Linked DNA regions of Homo sapiens. The protein of the gene in region 7 purifies or fractionates together with the protein of the main gene of each other region. This does not show direct contact. Each region holds a gene or a part of one and is shown on either strand. Other genes may lie near its edges.

The links.
Region 1: the proteins of OR2A4 (region 7) and AKR1B10 purify together in Homo sapiens (affinity purification with mass spectrometry; one large-scale study listed by BioGRID and IntAct). This does not show direct contact.
Region 2: the proteins of OR2A4 (region 7) and RAB5B purify together in Homo sapiens (affinity purification with mass spectrometry; one large-scale study listed by BioGRID and IntAct). This does not show direct contact.
Region 3: the proteins of OR2A4 (region 7) and EML2 purify together in Homo sapiens (affinity purification with mass spectrometry; one large-scale study listed by BioGRID and IntAct). This does not show direct contact.
Region 4: the proteins of OR2A4 (region 7) and SULT2B1 purify together in Homo sapiens (affinity purification with mass spectrometry; one large-scale study listed by BioGRID and IntAct). This does not show direct contact.
Region 5: the proteins of OR2A4 (region 7) and ACP7 purify together in Homo sapiens (affinity purification with mass spectrometry; one large-scale study listed by BioGRID and IntAct). This does not show direct contact.
Region 6: the proteins of OR2A4 (region 7) and ANXA9 purify together in Homo sapiens (affinity purification with mass spectrometry; one large-scale study listed by BioGRID and IntAct). This does not show direct contact.

What each region holds. Positions count from the first base shown.
Region 1 is NC_000007.14:134,539,740-134,541,912, reverse strand, and holds the end of AKR1B10 (aldo-keto reductase family 1 member B10), read right to left. Parts: intron 867-2,173; coding exon 824-866; 3' UTR 501-823; downstream 1-500. UniProt on the Homo sapiens protein: Catalyzes the NADPH-dependent reduction of a wide variety of carbonyl-containing compounds to their corresponding alcohols. Displays strong enzymatic activity toward all-trans-retinal, 9-cis-retinal, and 13-cis-retinal.
Region 2 is NC_000012.12:55,972,799-55,976,877, reverse strand, and holds the start of RAB5B (ras-related protein Rab-5B), read right to left. Parts: upstream 2,801-4,079; 5' UTR 2,739-2,800; exon of another isoform or gene 2,587-2,738; coding exon of another isoform or gene 2,539-2,586; intron 1-2,538. UniProt on the Homo sapiens protein: The small GTPases Rab are key regulators of intracellular membrane trafficking, from the formation of transport vesicles to their fusion with membranes.
Region 3 is NC_000019.10:45,612,149-45,615,397, forward strand, and holds part of EML2 (echinoderm microtubule-associated protein-like 2), read right to left. Parts: intron 2,553-3,249; coding exon 2,457-2,552; intron 1,524-2,456; coding exon 1,393-1,523; intron 1-1,392. UniProt on the Homo sapiens protein: Tubulin binding protein that inhibits microtubule nucleation and growth, resulting in shorter microtubules.
Region 4 is NC_000019.10:48,583,172-48,586,671, reverse strand, and holds part of SULT2B1 (sulfotransferase 2B1), read right to left. Parts: intron 1-3,500. UniProt on the Homo sapiens protein: Sulfotransferase that utilizes 3'-phospho-5'-adenylyl sulfate (PAPS) as sulfonate donor to catalyze the sulfate conjugation. Responsible for the sulfation of cholesterol.
Region 5 is NC_000019.10:39,090,868-39,094,367, reverse strand, and holds part of ACP7 (acid phosphatase type 7 isoform 1 precursor), read right to left. Parts: intron 1-3,500.
Region 6 is NC_000001.11:150,985,292-150,988,791, forward strand, and holds part of ANXA9 (annexin A9), read left to right. Parts: intron 1-1,044; coding exon 1,045-1,124; intron 1,125-1,310; coding exon 1,311-1,370; intron 1,371-2,580; coding exon 2,581-2,665; intron 2,666-2,799; coding exon 2,800-2,895; intron 2,896-2,991; coding exon 2,992-3,050; intron 3,051-3,500. UniProt on the Homo sapiens protein: Low affinity receptor for acetylcholine known to be targeted by disease-causing pemphigus vulgaris antibodies in keratinocytes.
Region 7 is NC_000006.12:131,699,144-131,702,583, forward strand, and holds OR2A4 (olfactory receptor 2A4), read right to left. Parts: upstream 2,259-3,440; coding exon 1,326-2,258; 3' UTR 501-1,325; downstream 1-500. UniProt on the Homo sapiens protein: Odorant receptor.

The DNA.
Region 1 (2,173 bases), on a different chromosome or scaffold from region 7:
CAGATTAATGGCAATAGTAAGTATCTTTATTGTTTTTCCACCCTACTTCCCAAGGAAATGCCACACCTCTACTTCCCAAGAAAATGCCGCACCTCTCTCAATGAACACTAGCATCTTTGTGGAGTTTGCAGGCTCTGCCATTGACTCTTTGGCACAATGGTGTTGAAGGCAAGCTGTGAGAGCAAGACAGGGAATGAGTGGAGACAGGCAAGAAGGAAAGGTGGCAGGAAAAGGCTCAGGAGAAAGAGGATGACCATCGATCGCTGTGAGCTACCCCAGAGCCTGCCTCCCTTTGAAACTTGGTTCAGTCACTTACTACCTGGGTGGCCTTGAGCAAGTTCCTCCTCCCTCCCCTCTACCTCCATTTCCTCTTCCAGCAAATGTGAATAATAAGATGTTAAGAATACCTACCCCAAAGGGATTATTCTGAGGATTCAATGACTTCACCCACAGGAAAACACTTCAAATTGTGTTGGCACATAGTACAGTCTCAATACATGTTGGTTATGATTATTATTTTTTTTATTGATCTTTACATCCTCAGTGTTGGCAGAGTTTCTGATGCTTAATAAACATTTGTTCTGATCAGATAAGTGGAAAAAATTGTCATTTCCTTATTCAAGCCATGCTTTTCTGTGATATTCTGATCCTAGTTGAACATACAGAAATAAATGTCTAAAACAGCACCTCGATTCTCGTCTATAACAGGACTAAGTTCACTGTGATCTTAAATAAGCTTGGCTAAAATGGGACATGAGTGGAGGTAGTCACACTTCAGCGAAGAAAGAGAATCTCCTGTATAATCTCACCAGGAGATTCAACCTCAATATTCTGCATTGAAGGGATAGTCTTCCAAATGAGAGGATCTGCAGGAAAGAACAAAAAACAAAAACAGAGAAACTGAGTTCCATCAAAACAACAACTCTGGTTGAGAAGGTATTCTTCCCTGGTGGACTCTATCATATTTGTGCTCTCTTAGCCTCCTCCCTGCAAGAACATAAGGAGGGTGCCCACACTTTGACCTTCCCTCAAATCGATATGAGGGCTTTGCTCGGAAGGAGGGCAGACAGTGAGCAGGGCAGCAGAATAAACTCGTAATGACAACCCATAGTAAGCCTGGTGTCAGGCGAGGTGACAGACAAGTCTTGTCCCAATCCACTCTCACAACATCATGAAGTAGGAAACAACAGCAGAATTGACAGCTTGGGGATTGTTCTGAGTATTAAATGAGATAATACCACCGGAAAAGGGCGCAGGACCCTGGCACATTCTAAGCTAAGGTTCAATGGATGTTAGCTGCGATTAGTATTATCATCCTACTTTATAAGTGAAGAAACCAACTTGGAAAAACTAGGAAATTTGCCCAATGTCACACAGCTAATAAACCAGTGTTAAAGTTGGATTTGAGGCCAGGTGGATTTACTGCAGAGCCCACCAACCCATTGCCTCCATTGCTACCCATTGCCAGAAATGATGCTCATAGGAAGGTAAGCAGTTTAGTTTGGGGGGTGAGTCCCACTTTACGTTCACCCTTCCTTTTTGCTCTAAGTAGCTACTACTTTGTTAAGCTCCAATAAAAGTAAGCCATTGTAAGATGAGGAAAGGCTCCTATGATACTTAGGGTGGGCAGGATAGATATGGAATATCATGACATGCAAGCAGCGCTTGAGATACTGAAACCTTTTTTTTTTTTCTGAGACAGAGTCTCGCGCTGTCACCCAGGATGGAGTGCAGTGGCGCAATCTCAGCTCACTGCAAGCTCTACCTCCCGGGTTCACACCATTCTCCTGCCTCAGCCTCCTAATTAGCTGGGACTACAGGTGCCCACCACCACGCCCAGCTAATTTTTGGTAGAGACGGGGTTTCACCATGTTAGCCAGGATGGTCTTGATCTCCTGACCTCTTGATCAGCCCACCTTGGCCTCCCAAAGTGCTGGGATCACAGCCGTGGGCCACCACGCCCAGCCGAAATCATTTTTAAAAGGTGAAAAATCGTTTTTGGCTATAGAAACATTGAAAGAGATTCAAATCCTCATTGAATTACAGATCTGGCAGTAATAAATGCCAGACAACTCTTTTTGATACATTTAATTAGATACATTATTCAGAAAGTATTGCTTGTAAAGAGATGATTTAGAATGCCTGCCCAGCCAGAGTGAAAGCTTTTTTTCAC
Region 2 (4,079 bases), on a different chromosome or scaffold from region 7:
CAACAGAGGGCTTTTAAAGCTAGTAAGGACAAATTCAATTAATAAGGTGGTAGTATGAAATGCCCCAGCTGTACTCTGACTCTGAGATTTAGAGGAAAACCGATTTCAAATCCAGATAAGCTTGGAGCTTCTCAGATCCCTACAGAAAGACACACACTGTACTCCAGCCTAAGTGACAAAGCAAGACCCTGTCTCTAAAAATAGAAGAAAAGAAAAGAAAGACAAATACAGGGGCCTCTTAGGAGAACCATCATCATCATGGATAAGAAAGGGATAGTCAAGTAATGTGAACATGCAGAGACCATGAACATCCAGAGACCATGAATTTGAGATAAGGGTCTGAAATTCCTTTCTTTAGCAGAGATGCCAACAATTATCCCAACCAAAATGATCCTTTCTCCCCATAAAGTTTTGTTCCATCTCTTTGGGCACTTCCTAGGACACCCAGCACACAACTTGGGGTGTGTGTGTTTGTGTGTACTCAAGGTGAATAACACACAGTACAGCCCTCTGCTTGTCGGACTTGGTAGAAGACAAAATGAACTGTGAAAGGAACACAATAAATAACAGAGTATCATCCCAGAAGGGAAAACTGTAGAAAGAATAAGACTAGAGTTTGATGAGAACATGAAAACACAATTGCCTTTTGTGACACATCCCCCAAAGCAAAGCAAGATTAGTCTGATTTGCTGTCTCTGATCCTTGACCTTCCTAAATGAAATATGAATAAGGTATGTGTGGGAGGATTTATACTTCTTAAACTGCTGTACACCTTCCATATTTTAAAATATGTACATATTAACTTTTGTAATTAAGAAATGTAGTGATGGCCGGGTGTGGTGGCTCACGCCTGTAATCCCAGCACTTTGGGAGGCCGAGGTGGGCGGATCATGAGGTCAAGAGATTGAGACCATCCTGGCCAACATGGTAAAACCCTGTCTCTACTAAAAATACAAAAATTAGCTGGGCGTGGTGGCGCACGCCTGTAGTCCCAGCTACTTGGGAGGCTGAGGCAGGAGAATCTCTTGAACCTGGGAGGTGGAGGTTGCAGTGAGACTCCGTCTCAAAAAAAAAAAAAAAAAAAAAAGAAATGTAGTGATAAAATATATTGGTAGAGACGCAGAAAAGGAGGAAGTACAGTAAGGGAAAATCCAATAGGCTCCAATCTATGAGGGACTAAGAAGGCTAGCAGACCATTAAAAATATGTGGGGAGGAGGGTACTCCACTCCTCTGCTTTGGCAATCTTTGTCTTTTTTTTTTTTGGAGACAGGGTCTCATTCTGTTGCCCAGGCTGGAGTGCAGTGGGAAGATCATGGCTCACTGCACCCTCGAACTCCCGGGCTCAAGTGATCCTCCTGTCTCAGCCTCCCAAAGTGCTGGGATTACAGGCGTGGGCTACTGCACCTCTGTATCTTTTTCTCTACTCACCATCTTCCCCAGATACTTCATAGTTTGACCCAACTTTCTAACAGCACAGAAATCTGGGCTTTTGAAGTAGACAAAGAACAAGGGGTGATGCCAAGCTTTTGAAATGGAATTTCTCACTCTTCCCCAAATCTCTTCCTCAGTGATATCACCGCATAGTTTCGGACCTGTTAACTCCATTACCTGCCTGGGAAATACCCAAGTCAAGTCTAAGTCCCACAAAAGTTTCACCAACTATGATCAGAAGATCTCCTGATGGCTGAGGATCTCTAAGCCCCTTTCCCATGTAGATAATGAAATAGATATGAAATAGATTCTCAGTTCTAGGAGACATGGTATTTGCTATAGACCACATTATTAAGTGGGAAAGAAGTGGACAAAACATGCCCCCAATCCAACTTCTTAGCTCTTTCATAGGACATGAAACAGTAAGTTAAGAAACAGACTGCAGTATAGACCAGCTATGAGGCCAACAGAAAGTGTAGGGGCTGAGTTTGGAGCAGCCAACAGTCATGGAAAAAAAAAAATTACTTTGATCTTCATCCCTACCCTGGGAGTTTTAAAAAGCTTCAAATTACCACATCTAAACACTAAAGGGAACAAAAGAGTGTGTACTCCCAAGACCCAGAGCCCCCAGCCCACCCTTCAGCATTCCCAGAAGTTCCCATAACTGATACCAGGCCCTGCTTCCATTACTTCAACTACCTTAGTCTTCTAGATTAATACAGCCTTCTTCATTTTCCCCAGTTCTCCCTCACTGAACCCAAATCTCTCTCAGCTCAACACCATAGCACCCTCAGTTCTTTTTACAATAGGCACTTTCCCTGAAAAGAACGCTTCTTACCCAACTAAGAACCCTTCTCAGGCCCTTCCAATGAACCTCTCTGCAGGGACCCAGCCCCAGTCACCCCCGGGGCTCGGGCGACAGGTCTGACCCTCCTCACCTCCCGGCAAATGGGCTTACCTCACCCGCTGCCCTGTTCCTTTCCCCAGCTCCTCCCTCTTCAGCGCTGCTTAATGAGGCCTGCCCCTGCCCTCACTCAAGCTCCAGGCCTCCAGCCCCCGGCCCTCGGCCTGGCCGCCGCCACAGCCCAGCCGCCTTCCCGACTCACCAACTTCGGGGTCCCAGGCCGCCCAGTCCCCTCCTCAGCGACCCCCATTAGGCCTGCCGGGGCCCGGCCCCCTTCTCCCCTCTCCGGTGGGCCACTCTAACCCCTCGCTTAGGACCAGACCCGCCTCCGCTCTCAGGCCAGGCTGCTCTCATCTCCCGGGCGCTTCCGCCCCTGCCCTTTGGGCTCCATCAGCTCGGTACCTGGGGCTCCGTCTCCCCCGTCGGCCCCAAGCCTGTGTCGAACAGACAAACAGCTGCAGCTCAACCAAACCCTCCTGCCCCTCCTTCTCCTCCTCGCCCTGGGGCGGGGCTCCAGCCAATAGCTCGATTACCCGCCTACCTTCGAGGGTGGGCTATATGTGCACTCATCCACCAATCCTCTGGAGAAAGGCGAGTCTCTTTGGGCGCTGTCACCAACAAGTACGAGCAAGGGACGCGACAGGCGGGGCCACAAGCCAATAGCGAGGGAGAAACCTCGAAGATGGACGAGGTAAGGAGCCATTAAAGAGCAAGCTCCTGAAGACAGGGGGCGGTACACTGCCGACAGGCGTATGTATCCACCAATAAAATCTCGACACCCCATGACCCCGCCTTTTGACTCATAAACATCTAATCAGGTGAGTGATGGAGGCGGGTCAAAGTGAAACTTTAACCAGTACTGCGAAAATACGGTACTTGACTGGCAGGCAAGGAGGGGTTGAAGGAAGCCTTAGGAAGGCCGCTACTGACCTTCGCCCCTCCCCCTGGACTTGGCTGGGGCTGGCTCTAGTGCCCTGCCTTCTATGACAAATTCGCGGGCGTAAAGGGAAATACCTCTTCTAGGGATCCGGAGCCTGGGAATTTAAGTAACCCTGACATCAGCGCTTCCTCCTTTTAGTGAGGCTTCAGTGGACAGGCGTATTTGGGGTGGCCGCGGGCGGTCTGAGATGTTTTTTGGTGGAATGAGACAATGGCAACTACAAGAAGTGGTAGCTTGGAGACGCTTTTTCAGAATCGTATGTAAATGTAAATAAAAGAATCTTTGGAAAACTTTTCTGTCTGTGATATGAAACAGAAAGGAAAAACGGCGGGCTTACTGGGAAATGCAGTGTCGAAAGGCAAATTCCCCGGGAGCCCTCTTCCTGCCGCTATGTATGTGCATGGGTGTGTGTATGTATGGGGTGTGTGTGCATATATGGTGTGTATGTGGTGTGTGTGTATTTGGTATATGTATACGTGGTGTGTGTGGTATATGTGTGTATATGATGTGTGTGTGGTGTGTGTATGTGATGTGTGTGTGGTGTGGTGTGTGTGTGGTATGTTGGCTGGGGGAAAGGAGGTTTGCTGGTGTGTGGAGAAAGTGAAGTAGGAAGTATATAGGCTTCAGTTTCCCCAGCCATAAATAGGGATGATAATAACCACTTTGTTCACCGTCAGCACTAGCCAAAATGGGGTGGGGTGGGCAGCCATGCACAGAGAGATTAGGAAAAGGGGTCTGAAATCAATGATCACATACACACATTCATATTCTGTCTCCCACCATTCTTTCAGTAAATAAGAGGA
Region 3 (3,249 bases), on a different chromosome or scaffold from region 7:
CTACTTCTTGGGTTCAAGCAATTCTCCTGCCTCAGCCTCCTGTGTAGCTGGGATTACAGGCGCCTGCCACTACGCCTTGCTAACTTTTGTATTTTTAGTAGAGTCAGGGTTTCACCATGTTGGTCAGGCTGGTCTCAAACTCCTGACCTCAGGTGATCCATCACCTTGGTCTCCCAAAATGCTGGGATTACAGGCTTGAGCCACCGCACCCGGCCACATATGCAGTTTCTTAAAACTACAGACCAGGACAGGTACTGTGGCTCATGCCTTGTAATCCCAGCACTTTGGGAAACTAAGGTGGAGAGGATTGCTCAAGCCCAGGAGATCAAGACCAGCCTGGGCAACAGAGAACCTATCTCTATGAAAAATACAAAAATTGGCCAGGTGTGGTGGTGCACGCCTGTAGTCCCAGCTACTCAGAAGGCTGAGGTGGGCGGACCGCTTGAGTCCAGGAGGTCAAGGCTGCAGTGAGCCGAGATTGTGCCATGCCACTGCACTCCAGCGTGGGCAACAGAGTGAGACCCTGTCTCAAAAATAAAAAATAAAAAAAGAAGAGAAAGGAGAAAGAAGAAACAAATGAAATAAATATACCAAATCTGGTAATAGTTGAACATGGGTAACAGGTACAGGAGGAGTCACTGTACTAGTCTTTCTGCTTTTATGCATGAAAATTTCCTAGGAAAATGCTGAAACAATCCCTCTTCTGTTAGAACCAGAGAATGGTAAAATTAACGTCCAGCTTTTTTTTTTGTTTTTGTCTTTGTTTTGAGACAAAGTCTTGCTCTGTCGCCCAGGCTAGAGTACAGTGGTGCAATCATGGCTCACTGCAGCCTCAACCTCCTGGGCTCAAGCAATCCTCCCACCTCAGACTTCCTTGTAGCTGGAACTACAGGCATGCACAACCATGCCCAGCTAATTTTGTGTGTATTTTGTAGAGATGGGGTCTCACTTTGTTGCCCAGGCTGGTCTTGAACTCCTGGCCTCAAGCAATCCTCCTGCCTCAGCTTTGCAAAGTGTTGCGATTACAGGTGTGAGCCACTGCAACTGGCCTTGGCCTCCCTTAAAAACTCATAAGATCTGGTTGTATATCCTGTGCCTAGGTACATAGTAGGTGCTCAATAAATATTTACTGAGTTAACAAGGATAAAAGAACCAAAGAGCTCAGAATTGCAGTTGCTCAGAACTTCAGAGAACCAGGTCTTCACCATGACACACTGAAATTCATCCACCTTGGGGTTAAGAAAGGCCCTTGGGATCAAGACTACTGTCCTCCTTGTACAGATGGGGAAACCGAGGCTCAGAGAAGGGGTGGGGTTGGACCAGAGCTGCCTGAATTTTGTCCCCACCCCTGCTTGCTACCCCCGTCCATCCCCATCTCCCCAAGGGACTCACTCGAGGCTGACAGCAGGGGTAGCTAAACAGGTGAACTTTGCCAAAGTCATCAGCTGAAGCCAGCAACTTCCCATCATGAGAGCGGGCCACAGCGTTGATATCAGTGCCGTCCGCCCCCTCAGACCAGATCCCTGTGGGCAAGATGAAGGGAAGTGGTAAGATGTCAGCTGGAGCCAGGGACCGCCAAGAGGAGCAGATTGCCACTCCAGCCACCTTAATTTGTTCCGACCTAGCCTGTATCTATCCGAGGATATGAGTCAGAATTACCTTAAAATGTGAATCCGAGCCTGCCCCTGCTCTGCTTAAAACCCTTCCATGGCTCCCTGGTGATCTTAGAAGAAAGCCTGTGGTTCTAAGGCTCAGCAGGCCCCATGCACTGCTCCAGCCTCATCCCTCATCAGTGCTCCTGTTAAACTCTGTAATGATTTGGCCACCCTGCCTCCCTGCATTTCTCCAAATGCCAAGTTCTGTGTCACGCGTGGGCTTTTGTATGTACTATTCCCTTTGCCAAGAGACTGCTTTCCTTCTTCACTGCCCTGGAAAGTAACTCCTCATCCTCCAGGTCCTAGCTCAGATGTCTCTTCCTCCAGGAAGCCCTCCCTGATTCCCTCCAAGAGTAGGCCAGATGCCCCACCCTGGGTTTCCCTGTCTCAGACCTGCTCACTCTGGGTCATCACTGTCTGGGGACAAGTCTGCCTCCCCCACTGGACTGAGAGCCACAGGAGAGCAGGGCCGTCAGTCATGGTCACTGCCAAGCCCACGGCAGGCACAGAACTGCTCAGGGAATATGTGTTTGCTTCATTCGTGCCTGAATGAATGGGTGGCTAGGGCACCGGCAGTGTGGATCTCTCCTGGCCAGTTACCACGCCCATTTGGTTTCATTTTATTACAGCTCTAATGAGTCATCTCACCCTACCCTTTCCTCTTACACAAATACAGCCCACATGCAGTAAAGCAGTGAGCTTCCCACACTGGAGGTAAGCAGTAAGACTCTGGAAACCACCAGCGGGGATGTCTCTCAGAACTACTGTCCTCAGTGAGACCTCTCTCATTCCAGAACTCACCAAACACCCCAAACCCTAGGACACAAGTAGCTGTGGCCCATTCCATGTTCCTCACAGCATCCGCACTGGTGATCTGCTTACAGGTAGCCGGGTCCCCTGGGGCAGAAAATGGGAGGAGACATTCAGAGTTGGAAGAACTACCCAGTAAACCCATCCCTTTCTTAGACAATCGGAGCTGAGGTCCAAGACAGAGGAGGCTAAGGTCCCAGGGCTCATTCTACCTGTCAGGACTGGCTGAGAAGGCATCACATGCTGGGGTCTTCACAGCCCGCAGCGTAAGCAGGAGCATCTACTTTTAAACCCGCATCTGGCCGGGCATGGTGGCTCACGTCTGTAATCCCAGGAGGCAGCATGAGCCACAGCATCTGGCTGGATCACCTGAGGTCAGGAGTTCGAGACCAGCCTGGCCAAGATGGTGAAACCCCATCTCTACTAAAAATACAAAAATTAGACCAGGTGTGGTGGCTCATGCCTGTAATCCCAGCATTTTGGGAAGCCAAGGCAGGCGGATCACCTGAGGTCAGGAGTTTAAGACCAACCTGGTCAACATGGCGAAACCCTGTCTCTACTAACAATATTTTAAAAATTAGCTGGGCGTGGTGGTGGACACCTGGAATCCCAGCTACTCAGGAGCCTGAGGCAAGAGAATCGCTTGAACCTGGGAGGCGGAGGCTGCAGTGAGCCGACATCGTGCCATTGCACTCCAGCCTAGGAGACAAGAGGGAAACTCCCATCTCAAAAAAAAAAAAATACAAATACAAATATTAGCCGGGCATGGTGGTGTGCTCCTGTA
Region 4 (3,500 bases), on a different chromosome or scaffold from region 7:
TGCAGGGCAGAGACTGGTGAGCTGTCCACCCAACCCCATTTCATTTTTCTGCTGGGAATATGGCGTGATGACCTTTTCTCTTCTCCCCTGCTGCTATGTGTGGGGCCAAGAGACTGGGTCTGGCCAAGGAAGTATAGGTGGCGGCGATGTGATGTGCGGCTATTTCCAGGCCTGGCCCATAAACGCACGCCACGTGACTCTCCACTCCCTCTCTGCTTCTGGATACAGAGACTCCAGGGGAGAATCTGGGACTCCCGGGGATGGCAGAGCCATAAGATGGAAGGAACCAAATGTCTGGGAATGCATGGATATCCCCCCACCAACTTCCTTCCACCCTTCCTGCACCAACTACAGTTTATAGGAAAAAGAAACAAACTTGGCTTCAGCCGCTGAAATTCTGAGGCTGATCTATTAGTACAGCCAGAATTGCTTTACTTATTTATTTTTTTGGGGACAGAATCTTGCTCTGTCACCCAGGCTGGAGTGCAGTGGTGTGATCACAGCTCACTGCAGCCTTGAAATCCCGGGCTTAAGAGATCCTCCTGCCTCAGCCTCCCGAGTAGCTGAGACCACAGGTGCACACAACCACACCTGGCTAATTTCTTATTTTTATTTTTAGAAGACATACGGTCCCACTATGTTGCCCAGGCTGGTCTTGAACTCCTGGGCTCAAGCAATCCTCCTGCCTCAGCCTCCCAAGGTGCTGGGAGCAGAGGCATCATGCCCAGCAGGCACTCCTTTAATACATGGAGAAAGCTGGAATTGAACCCAGGTGTCTGGACATAAAAATCTCTGCTCTTTTCACTTTTCACTGCCCACTTTTGAGGGTCACCCCTTTTTTTATTATACTTTAAGTTTTAGGGTACATGTGCACAACGTGCAGGTTAGTTACATATGTATACATGTGCCATGTTGGTGTGCTGCACCCATTAACTCATCATTTAACATTAGGTATATCTCCTAATGCTATCCCTCCCCCCTACCCCCACTTTTTTTCTTTTTGAGACGGAGTTTTGCTCTTGTTGCCCAAGCTGGAGTGCAATGGCGCGATCTTGGCTCACTGCAACCTCCGCCTCCCGGTTTCAAGTGATTCTCCTGCCTCAGCCTCCCTAGTAGCTGGGGTTACAGGCATGCACCACCACGCCTGGCTAATTTTTGGTATTTTTAGTAGAGATGGGATTTCACCATGTTAGCCAGGCTGGTCTCGAACTCTTGACCTCCAGTGATCCACCTGCCTCAGCCTCCCAAAGTGCTGGGATTACAGGAGTAAGCCACTGCGCCCGGCTGAGGTTCACCTCTTTATTTCTGTGGGGAGCCACAGAATGTTACCTAGTGGAAAGGGACCTCATCAAGGACCCAATTCACAGTTTTGAATTTCAGGAGACCACAGGCTGTTCAGAAGAGAAACAATTACGTTCAAAATTACTTTCTGTTAGTATTCATTGCATTTAATTCTTTTTGAGACAGGATTCCGCTCTGTGACCTGGGCTGGTGTGCACTGTTGCAGTCACAGCTTACTTCAGCTTCAGCCTCCAACTCCCAGGCTCAAGTGATCCTCCCACCTCAGCCTCTGGAGTAGCTAGACCACATGTACCCAGCTTTTTTTTTTTTTTTTTTTTTTTTGAGAAGGAGTCTCACTCTGTTGCCCAGGCTGGAGTGCAGTGGCTCTATCTCGGCTCACTGAAACCTCTGCCTCCTGGATTCAAGCAATTCTCCTGCCTCAGCCTCCCAAGTAGCTGGGACTAGAAGTGTGCCACCACGCCTGGCTAGTTTTTGTATTTTTAGTAGAGATGGGGTTTTGCCATGTTGGCCAGGTTGGTCTCAAACTCCTGACCTCAGGTGATCCACCTGCCTTGGCCTCCCAAAGTGCTGGGATTATAGGCATGAGCCACCATGCCCAGCCTGCGCCCACCTAATTTTTAAAATTTTTGTAGAGATGGGGTCTCACTGTGTTGCCCAGGCTGGTCTGGAGCTCCTGGCCTCTAGCGATCCTCCTGCCTTGGCCTCCCAAAGTGCTGGGATTACAGGCGTAAGCCACCACATCCAATCCATTCACTGGATTTCATTCTAACAACCACCTTGTACCAGTTATCAGTTTACAGGCTGGTGGCTCCAACTTCATGCCTCTCTGCCGTTTTTGTGATATTGGAGCTGGACCCTGTAAACATTTCTCCTCTGCCAGCTAGCTCAGTGTTAAACCTTGTCAGCAGAGGGCGCTGGAGGAACACTGAATGAGGATGGGGCTCTTCCTGATTCTCACGAGCTCCTCTTAGCGGGATCTTGTGATGGACAGGGGCCAGCCCTGCACTAGACACGCAGTGACGTTTACCCCTCCCCCTAGCAAATTTCAGTGGCCTGTTGCACTTCAGTGAACTTCTCAGTCACCCAGTGGGTCATGACCATACCTCTGCAGCGAAACTCTAATCTTGTGTGGGGAGCCGGTTGGGCAGGGAAGTCCTTCTTCCCAATTTCTTTCTTTCTTGGGAGTTTGGCTTCAGCCCTAGAGGAAGTGGCTGCACCCTATTTTAGCTATTCCTGTGTGTGGTGTTTTTTGTTTGTTTGAGACGGAGTCTTGCTGTGTTTCCAGGCTGGAGTGCAGTGGCGCGATCTCAGCTCACTGCAACCTCCACCTCCCGGGTTCAAGTGATTCTCCTGCCTCAGCTTCCCGAATAGCTGTGACTACAGGCGCACGCCAGCATGCCCAGCTAATTTTTGTATTTTTAGTAGAGACAGGGTTTCACCATGTTGGTCAGGATGATCTCAATCTCTTCACCTCGTGATCTGCCTGCCTCAGCCTCCCAAAGTGCTGGGATTACAGGCGTAAGCCACTGTGCCTGGCCTTTTGTTTGTTTGTTTGAGACAGTCTGGCTCTGTCGCCCAGGCTGGAGTGCAGTGGCGCAATCTCCACTCACTGCAACCTCCGCCTCCTGGGTTCCAGCCATTCTCATGCCTCAGCTTCCCAAGCAGCTGGGACTACAGGCGCGCACCACCAGGCCCGGCTAATTTTTGTATTTTTAGTAGAGACGGGGTTTGGCCATTTTGGCCAGGCTGGTCTTGAACTCCTGACCTCAGGTGATCCGCCCGCCTCGGCCTCCCAGAGTGCTGGGATTACAGGCATGAGCCACTGCACCCGGACGAATTTCCTTCCTTTTTACAGCTGAATAATATTCCATTGTATGAATATAGCATAATTTGTTTATCCATTCATTCATGAACGGCAGATATTTGGATAGTTTCAGCTTTTGGTCATTGCAAATAATGTGGCTATGAACATTGGTGTACAAATATCTGTCAGAGTGCCCCCACCTAGTATTTAGTTCTTTTGGGCATATTCCTGGAAGTGGAACTGCTGAGTTAATATGGTAATTCTATCTTTAATTTTTTGAGGAACTGCCAAACTGTTTTCCATAGCAGCTGTACCATTCTACATGCTCACCAACAGTGCACAAGGGCCCCATTTTCTCAACATCCTTGCCACACTTGGTATTTTCTTCTGTTTT
Region 5 (3,500 bases), on a different chromosome or scaffold from region 7:
CCATGCCCGGCTAATTTTTGTATTTTTAGTAGAGACAGGGTTTCACCGTGTTGGCCAGGCTAGCCTCGAACTCCTGACCTCATGATCCACCCACCTGGGCCTCCCAAAGTGCTGGGATCAGCACTTTGGGTGAGCCACCACGCCCAGCCTACAACATATCTTTACACAGTGGTTTTTATATCCCAGGAGCATATACAGATAGATACGAAAATCCAGATTTTGAAGTGATAGCTTCAAATTCTTAAACGTTAGCACCCAAGTCAAGGTTTTAAAAATACCGTGTGGTGTAGTGTAATGTTAAGAGTTCTTCCTCCAGCCATACAAAAATGCATGTGCTCAGGGTTATTTATGGCAGTACTCTTTGTAATTGCAAAATACGGGAAACAACCTAAATGCCCATATTTAGGAGAGTGACTCAATAACATCCACACAATGGTGTAAAAAAGAATGAGGACAAGTTCCAAGAACTGCTATGAAATGTTTCCAGGACATATTGTTAAACCAAAAAAAGCAAAGTGCATAAGAGTATAGTTAGCTGCCCTTAATGTAAGGGGGTATAGAAAATATGCAGGTGTCTCTGTTCATTTGTACAAAAGAAATAAAGAAAGGGTACACCAGGTACTAAAGAGATGAATTACTTACAGGGGATGAGTGGAAAATGAGGTAGAAGAAAAGAGGAGGCCAGACATGGTGGCTCAGCCTGTAATCCCAGCACTTTGGGAGGCCAAGGTGGGTAGATCACTTTGAGGCCAGGAGTTTGAGACCAGCCTGGCCAACATGGTGAAACCCCATCTCTACTAAAAATGCAAAAATTAGCTGGGCGCGATGGCTCATGCCTGCAATCCCAGCACTTTGGGAGGCTCAGGAAGGTGGGTCACTTGAGGTCAGGAGTTCGAGACCAGCCTGGCCCATATGGCAAAACCCGGTCTCTACTAAAACTATAAAAATTAGCTGGGCAGGGTGGCGCGTGCCTGTAATCCAGCTACTCAGGAGGCTGAGGCAGGAGAATCACTTGAACCCAGGAGGCGGAGGTTGCAGTGAGCTGAGATTGTGCCACTCACTGCACTCCAGCCTGGGTGACAGAGCAAGACCCCGTCTCGAAAAAAAGAAAGAGAAAGAAAGAAAGAGAGAGAGAGAGAAAGAGAGAGAGAGGGAGAGAAAGAAAGAAACAAAGAAAGAAGGAAGGAAGGAAGGAGAGAAAGAAAGAAAGAGAAAGAAAGAAAGGAGTGAGGGAAGAAGGAAAGAAAGAAAGAAAGAAAAAGAAAAAAAGAAAGAAAAGAAAGAAACGGGGGCCAGGCGCGGTGGCTCACGCCTGTAATCCCAGCACTTTGGGAGGCCAAGGCAGGTGGATCACCTGAGGTCAGAAGTTCAAGACCAACCTGGCCAACATAGTGAAACCCCATCTCTACCAAAACTACAAAAATTAGCTGGGTGTAGTGGCACACACCTGTAGTCCCAGCTACTCAGGAGGCTGAGACAGGAGAATCGCTTGAATCTGGGAGGCGAAGGTTGCAGTGAGCCGAGATCACACCACAGCACTCCAGCCTGGGTGACAGAGCGAGACTCCATCTCAAAAAAAAAAAAAAAAAAAAAAAAGAGGAATGGGAAAGAGTAGTAGGGATGAAGAAACAGAGACACTGGTCTGAGTCAGGCTTTTCGTATAATTTTGACTCCTGGAACTATAGTCATGTTTCACATTTCCCTCACACACCCACAAAATAAATAATTAAAACTATCAGGGTGTGGGGGGAACCCAATATGGAATAGAAACACTAATAAGTGGACCTAACCAGATTAAAAAAAAGCATAACATAACCACATGGAAGGGGGTGAGGAAGAATAATAACCGCAAGAAACAGTGTCCTAACTGGGTATTATTACAAGACAAAAGACAAAAAGGACTGTGCATAAAGGCTGTCACCTTGGCATCGTGTGCTTCCCACAGGCACACCTGTAAATGATTCTGCAACTGCTATATATATATATATATATATATACAGAGTTTCGCACTTGTTGCCAAGGCTGGAGTGCAATAGCACAATTTCGGCTCACTGCAACCTCTGCCTCCCGGGTTGAAGCGATTCTTCTGCCTCAGCCTCCAAAGTAGCTGGGATTACAGGCATCTGCCAACACACATGGCTAATTTTTTGTATTTTTAGTAGAGACCGGGTTTTACCATGTTGGCCAAGCTGGTCTTGAACTCCTGACCTCAGGTGATCCACCTGCCTCTGCCTCCCAAAGTGCTGAGATTACAGGTGTGAGCCACCGCATGCTTTATGTATACACTAGGATTAAACAAATAAATATATCGTAGACAGAGTGAAGTTTCTGAGTGTTAGAGAAAGAAGTTACAAATAAGGAAAGATAAGGCTAAAATAAACCCATGGTGCTGGGCTGAAATCAGGGATATCAGTATGATCTCATGGTAATTCAATTTTTTTATTTTTTTATTTTTTTAGTTGTTGTCTTGCTCTGTTACCCAGGCTGGAGGGACAGTGGTGTGATCTTGGTTCACTGCAACCTCCGCCTCCCAGGTTCAAGTGATTCTCCTGCCCCAGCCTCCTGAGTAGCTGGGATTACAGGCACACACCACCACGCCTGGCTAATTTTTTGTAGTTTTGGTAGAGATGGGGTTTCACTATGTTGGCCAGGCTGGTCTTGAACTCCTGACCTCAAGTGATCCACCCACCTCAGCCTCCCAAAGTGCTGAGCCACTGTGGCCAACCAGGTAATTAATTTTTATACAGATTCAAACATAGATGTGTGAATATGCAGCTTCGTGTACATGCATGTATTGCCTCGCTGTGTTTGTTGAGAGGAACTAGAAGCAATGACATCCCAGTGGCAATGAGCACACCTAGTGCCCAGATCTTAGTTTCTAAATACTCCAATAAAAAGGAACTGGAGGGCTGGGCACAGTGGCTCATGCCTGTAATCCCAGCACTTTGGGAGGCTGAGGCAGGCAGATCATGAGGTCAGGAGTTCGAGACCAGCCTGACCGGCATGGTGAAACCCCGTCTCTACTAAAAATACAAAAATCAGCTGGGCTTGGTGGTGCACGCCTGTAGTCCCAGCTACTTGGGAGGCTGAGGCAGGAGAATCGCTTGAACCCAGGAGGCGGAGGTTGCTGTGAGCTGAGATCACGCCACTGTACTCCAGCCTGGGTGACAAGAGCAAAATTCCATCTCAAAAAAAAAAAAAAAGAAAGAAAAGAAACTGGAACTTATTGTGGGAAATAGGTGCTTCCCAGGATGGAACAGGAAATACACAAGAGGAGCCTGGAATCATTTGTGATGTCATCAAGTGAGGAAGTGCTCACAAATGATGGAGGCTTGTTGTAAGAACACAGAACGCAATCTGAAGGAATTCTGAGAGACCAAATCTGGGACAATCATAACATCAGATTTTTCACCCATGGAATAAAATGGATATCCATGAGTCCATGATGTAAATAAATCATTGAATAAAGTAATAAAGGGAGCAGGGAGGGACAGCTCTTT
Region 6 (3,500 bases), on a different chromosome or scaffold from region 7:
CAAAGGTACTCATGTCACCTTCCCAGCCCCTTGCCATCCCTGCCATCACACCACATTCCAAGCTGAACCCAGCCATGCTGCAGCCTGAGGAAAAGGTGGGAATCTGCCCTCTGAGTCATGGGTGTCACCTTTCATGTCCCTGATGGCTGGCCTTGCTTGGCTACAAGTGTCTCACCCACTAATTTGTGGCTTTTTCCCATCCTCATCTTACCACCCCTTCCCCCCACCCCTACCTCTTTTTCTTGCTTTCCCCAATTTTCCTTTGATGTCTAATCTTGGCCTATGTTCTTCTTTTGAGACAAGGTCTTGCCCTGTAGCCTAGGCTGTGCAGTGATGTCATCATGGCTCACTGCAGCCTTGACCCTTCTGGGCTCAATCAGTCCTCCCACCTCAGCCTCCTAAGTAGCTGGGACTACAGGTGTGCCACCACCATGCCCAGCTAAATTTTGTATTTTTTGTAGAGATGGGGTTTCGCTGTGTTGTCCAGGCTGGTCTCGAACTTCTGGGCTCAAGCCATCTCCTGCCTCAGCCTCTGAAAGTGCTGGGATTACAAGCATGAGCCACCGCCCTGGCCGTGGCCTATGTTCTTAATCCCTCTCCTACCTTCCTTCCTTCTTGCATCTGTTTCCCTTTTCTCTTTCTTTTTCTCCCTTTCCTGCTCTTTTCCTTCCTCATATCCCACCTCTCATATCATTTTTCCTTACCTCCAATGAGGGTGCCAGGTCCTAACCATCTTGTGTTATAATACGGGTTTCCCTAGCTCTTCTTCACTGCCTGGCCCCAACTCTAATAATGGTTGCCTCCTGCCCAGCAGGTTGGTGCTTGGTGATGAAGCCACTGCACACCTCACAACTTAGAGATGTTTTTAGAGTGGCCGTGATGGTACTTGTGCCTTACATCCTGGGAATTAGCAGCCATCAAGCTACTCCAAGCAGGGGCTAGCAGGGCTGGCAGGGTATAGCGGGTCAGGCATTTGGCAGGTCCTGGGGATATCTACACTAGGAAAACTCAGGAGGATTCAGAGAGCTCCTCACCCCACCCCAGATTTCCAGGTGGAGGCTGTGGATGACATCACATCTGAGACCAGTGGCATCTTGCAGGACCTGCTGTTGGCCCTGGCCAAGGTGAGGAGGACTGACCTGCAAGGAAGGGAGTCACGTTCACCAGGCAAGGAGACACGCTGGAGCAGGGAGCATTGCTGTCCTGTAATGGACAAGAGAGGGCTTTAGGGGAGACCAGCCTTCGCTTGTTGGTCTGAAGATAAAAAGGTGCCCTTCAAAGAGCCCTCTAAGAACAGTTTCTCCTCCTAGGGGGGCCGTGACAGCTACTCTGGAATCATTGACTATAATCTGGCAGAACAAGATGTCCAGGTGAGCAGGGGGTTTAGGAGTGTGCACAGCCGCCATGCACATAAGATGCCTTCCTCCACCATATCTTAGAGCCGGTGACCTACGTGCCCATTTTTCCCGCAAACCCATCCCTGCCTTGGAGAGGGAGTTCTCAGTTATGTGGTAGGGGCAGGAGGTGTCAGGTAGCGTCATAGCTGAAGCCTTTTCACTCATCTAGCCTCTGACTCCTGAGCTCATCAACTGACATATTCTCCTCTCATGAGCGTTTGGGGGCAGAAAGCCTCCTCAGACCTTTTGGGGATTATTTAATCCTCGGGTACCAGGATTTTTCCAAATCAGTGAATAGAGCTGTGAGGCTGTAAGGGCAGAGCCCTCTCTTAGCCCTATTTCTTTCTTAAAAAATAAAAAACATAAGATAAAAAAACATAAATAAAAACAACTAGTAGGCCAGGCATGGTGGCTTATACCTGTAATCCCAGCACTTTGGGAGGCTGAAACAAGAGGATCACTTGAGCCCAGGAGTCCAAGACCAGCCTAGGCAACATAGTGAGACTCTATCTCCACAAAATATTTTTAAAAATTAGCTGCACCTGTAGTTCCAGCTAGCTAGGAGGCTGAGGTGGGAGGATCGCTTGAGCCTGGGAAGTTGAGGCTGAGGTAAGCCCTGGTCATGCCACTGCACTCCAGCCTGGGTGACAGAGAGAGACCCCATCTCTCTCGCTCTCTCTCTCTCTCTCTCTCACACACACACACACACACACACGCACACACACAAACCTAGTTTACGGGTTAAAATAAACTTTCTGGCTGGTCGTGGTGGCTCACACCTATAATCCCAACAATTTGGGAGGCCGAGACAGGTGGATCACTTGAGGTCAGGAGTTCGAAACCAGCCTAGCCAACATGGTGAAACCCCGTCTCTACTAAAAATACAAAAATTAGCCAGGCATGATGGTGAGTGCCTGTAATCCCAGCTACTCAGGAGGCTGAGCCTGGAGAATCACTTGAACCTGGGAGGCAGAGGTTGTGGTGAGCTGGGATCACACCATTGCACTCCAGCCTGGGTGACAGAATGAGAGTCCTTCTCAAAAAAAAAAAAAAAAATCCTTTTCCACCCTCAATCCCATTTCCATCATGATGATGATAGATTCTGGAACGTCATACCCATGGCTCCCTAGGCCCCAACCAATGATCCTGATTGACTCCTCCCTGACTCATTCCTCCCTCCTAGGCACTGCAGCGGGCAGAAGGACCTAGCAGAGAGGAAACATGGGTCCCAGTCTTCACCCAGCGAAATCCTGAACACCTCATCCGAGGTACACACAAGCCTTCTTGTCCCCCTAGCTTGCTCTAATGATCAGTTTGGGCTGAGGAAGGTGGGGAGGGCCCATCCTTTCCAGAGATAATTAATCCCCCATCCATCTTTCTAACTGCCTCCTACACACACAAGTGTTTGATCAGTACCAGCGGAGCACTGGGCAAGAGCTGGAGGAGGCTGTCCAGAACCGTTTCCATGGAGATGCTCAGGTGGCTCTGCTCGGCCTAGGTAGGGGCCTGCTCAGGATTTGTGAAGTAAGTCTCTCTTGGGATGGGAGATTGTGGTCCTAGTTGTGAACCTCCATCCTTCCATCTTTGTTTCCAGCTTCGGTGATCAAGAACACACCGCTGTACTTTGCTGACAAACTTCATCAAGCCCTCCAGGTGAGAGGGGCACTCCTTTCCCTCCCCAGAACAGAAACTGGGGAGGAGAGAGGAAGTCTCAGCTTGCTGCTTATGTAACCATCCTATATACACCGTCTAAACCTCAAGCCGCTCTCCTTCCCAGGGCTTACACACCAGGGCTTACACAGGGGTGGAGGAATGAGCTGTGGTGAGAACTAACTTAGTTGGCTCCCAGGGGCCCTGAAACTAACATTTTGGCCTTGTTAATGTCTAGGTGGCCAAATAGAGATATGAATCTGCTCTGTAAGACAGTGCCTTGTGCAGGCTTAGTTGTTGCCAGAGTGATGGTGATAACACTAGCAAGAATAATGACAAGGGCTGGCATTTTGCAGGTGCTGATTGTGTGCCACAGCCTATCCTGAGCAGGGCACACATATTTCAATTAATCCTCACAACCATATCCATCCGTATCTTATAGATGAAAAAACT
Region 7 (3,440 bases):
AGGAGAATTGTTTCAACCCAGGAGGCAGAGGTTGCGGTGAGCCGAGATTGCACCACTGCACTCCAGCCTGGGCTATAGAGCAAGACTGTCTCAAAAAAAAAAAAAAAAAAAAAGGATAAAATAGTTTTAGGACATAGTTTTATATCTAACATGATATGACACTGAGTTATTGTGTAAAAAGTTATTTTAAAATATAAAAGTAAATTCTTTGAACTAAGACAATGAGAAATTAAATATAAATGTTTAAGACCAAACTTAAACCTAGAAAAAACATCATCTCAAAATGACATGTTTCCCATGGCATAAGAAGCTGCTACAACTTTTAAGTGTGTAGGTGGTGGATTTTGAAATCTTTCTAGATTTTTCTTTCTTGAGAAATCTGGGTTTATCTTGAAAACCCTGAATTAGAAAAATTAGATTGATTTCATTCAGCGGCAAACACAGGAAGATGTATACTGAATCATATTTCTTAAAAATCTCAAATTTAGAAGATTGTGAGGTTGAATGAGGTCATCTCCTGAAGCTTCTATAGCAGGAATGCCGATCCATGATGAAGGACAGGATTGCATTTATTTTCTTTAGATGATCTACCATTGAACAGTAGAGACAGGGTCCCTCACGGTCTGTATCCAAACAGAACCCGGATTTTTACAGACTGATCGAGGCATAATGCTCAGAACTACATCTCTTTAGAGGCTCACTTTGCAAGGAAAAAAGAAATCATTCTGCCCTAGAAGGGGGCTGTAGGAAGTATTCACAATGAGTCAATTAATATCAAGATCTCCTGTTCCAGGAAACTGTTACTAAGTATTACAAAGGAAATTTTATGTGCTCACATAAGTTTAGAAAACACTGGCTTAAAGCTGGTATAGAATTATTCTTTCCTAGAGAAATATTTACAGCATTCACTATGCTAATATGAATTGTGATCCCTAGACAGAGGCATCTGATGTGAAGTAAGTCTCAAACTTATTTGACTATAGAACTTATTTTTAAAGTCCTCTGAAGGGACCAGTGTTTTGAGGAAAACATTATGGGAGGTATGGGACTGGATCAAAAGCTAATGAGGATATTGTAAGGGGTATTGTCCTGGTGTGGAGTGGCTGCAGCACAACTTGAAGAGATCAATTTCTAGAATTTCATCCCACATCTGCTGAAATCAGTCATTTAAAGGTAGGGCAGGAGATAGCTCCATTTTAAATAAATGTCTCAGATAATTCTCATGTCCATTGAGGGCAGAGGTCCCACCAGTGCAGAGATGGGTTAAGAACCGCTCAATGATGTAACTTCCTAGGTCACTGTCAGTCACAATGCCATAATCCTTTTCATAAAGCCCTTTCTACTCCCAGCACTCTCTTCAAAGTATTCTTCACTTCTGAGTTCCTAAGACTACAGATAAGGGGATTGAGCATGGGATTAAAGAGGCTGTGAAACAGCAGGAGATATTTCTTCTGCTCCTTGGGGTTCCCATATCTGGGTCCAACATACATGATAATGGCTGTGCCATAAACGAGTCCAATCACACAGAGGTGGGAGAAGCAGGTGCGGAAGGCTTTCCTCTGAACTTCCCTTGATTGGATCTGAAGGATAGCACAGAGGATGCACATATATGAAACTACAATTGTGGACAAGGGTCCCACCAGCCCAGAAATTGCTCCGGCCAAGACCATGTTCTCATTGATGTGGGTATCTGCACAGGCAAGTTTGAGAACAGCCAAGATTTCACAAAAAAAGTGATAAATTTTCTGGGGCCTACAGAAGGGTAAAGGTAGAAGTAACACAAGATGAATCAAGGATAAAAGGACTCCAGTGGTCCAGGAAGTCACCGCGAGGGTGATGCAGACTCTCCAGGTCATGATGGCCAAATATCGGAGGGGGTGGCAGATGGCCACGTACAGATCATAGGACATCACCACCAGGAGGAGACATTCTGTGACAGCAAAAGTGGAAAACAGAAAGGTCTGCATCATGCGGCCCGCAAAGGAGATGGGCTTGGCTGGATGCAGGAGGTTCACCAGCATCCGGGGCACCGTGTTGCAGGCGTAGGCGATGTCGACGACCGCCAGGTGTGAGAGGAAGAAGTACATGGGGGCGTGCAGTCTGGAGTCCAGTGAGATGAGCCCCAGTATGGTCCCGTTCCCCAGCAGGGTGAAGACGTAGAACAGGGAGAAGAGCCCAAAGAGGAGCATCTGAATCCTTGGGCCAACGGGAAATCCCAGTAGGAGGAACTCTCTGATGGATGTTATATTGTCTCCCATATCCCTATGACAGAGGAAATCAAGTTAATGCTCATGGTTTAGGAGAAGTGTTTAAAAACAGATTCATTTTAACTTGTTCGGCACTCTTTGGTGAAGTAGAAAAGTGTTCAGACAGCTGCAGTGAGTTTTTGTGTTTTTAAATGAATGCTTCAAGACAATTTGGTAACGCTAAAATAAATGTTTAAAAAATATATGCAGGCCGGGTGCGGTAGCTCACGCCTGTAATCCCAGCACTTTGGGAGGCCGAGGCGGGCGGATTGCCTGAGCTCAGGAGTTCGAGACCAGCATTGACAACACGGTGAAACCCCATTTCTACTAAAAATACAAAAAATTAGCCCGGCGTGGCGGCGTGTACCTGTAGTCCCAGCTACTCGGGAGGCTGAGGCAGGAGAATTGCTTGATCCCAGGAGGCGGAGCTTGCAGTGAGCCGAGATCGCAACACTGCACTCCAGCCTGGGTGACAGAGCCAGACTCTGTCTCCAGAAAAAAAAAAAAAAGAAAAGAAAAAAAAAACGCGTGCACACGTATACATAGGTTTCTTTTTTATTACGTTAATTTTTTAATAAAGGCTAAAATTTAAAAATAAACATGTCACATATTAATATATCCTTTTGGTCTTTTTTTAAAAAAAATTTGGCTCAGGCCTTTCAGGGATGAATGTCACATGTCAATGTAGTACACAGTTTTTGTTTGATTCAGTGAGCTATCTCATATCCTTCAAATAAATTCTTCTTTTCCTTGGTCGTATTATTCAGAGTTTTTCTCTGTTATGTTTCAGAAACAATGAACACTAACTGATACACATGTCAAAGTCTTAAAACCACATTAAGTTTAATCTTAAAGTGGAAGGTTTAATTAAGGGCGGGCTATACTAAGGTTCGACATACCATCAGCCAAATACACCAGTGGTCATTCACCTCTTAAACTTTCCACTCTTGCACTGATCATCACCTCCACAGCATATATCTCACAAAATCTTTTCTTATCCAAGTGTAAAGACTTATTTTTTAGCCCAGAACATTATTTTTTGTTATTTACTTTCCCACAATGTTTAGATGAGCATTTATGTGAATGACTGAATAGATTTGCACTGTGTCATTATCTAAACACGAAAACAGGATCAGTAACTTTTGTTGGATTTGGGCTTACTATTGATAAACACTCTAGAATACACAGTTTTAA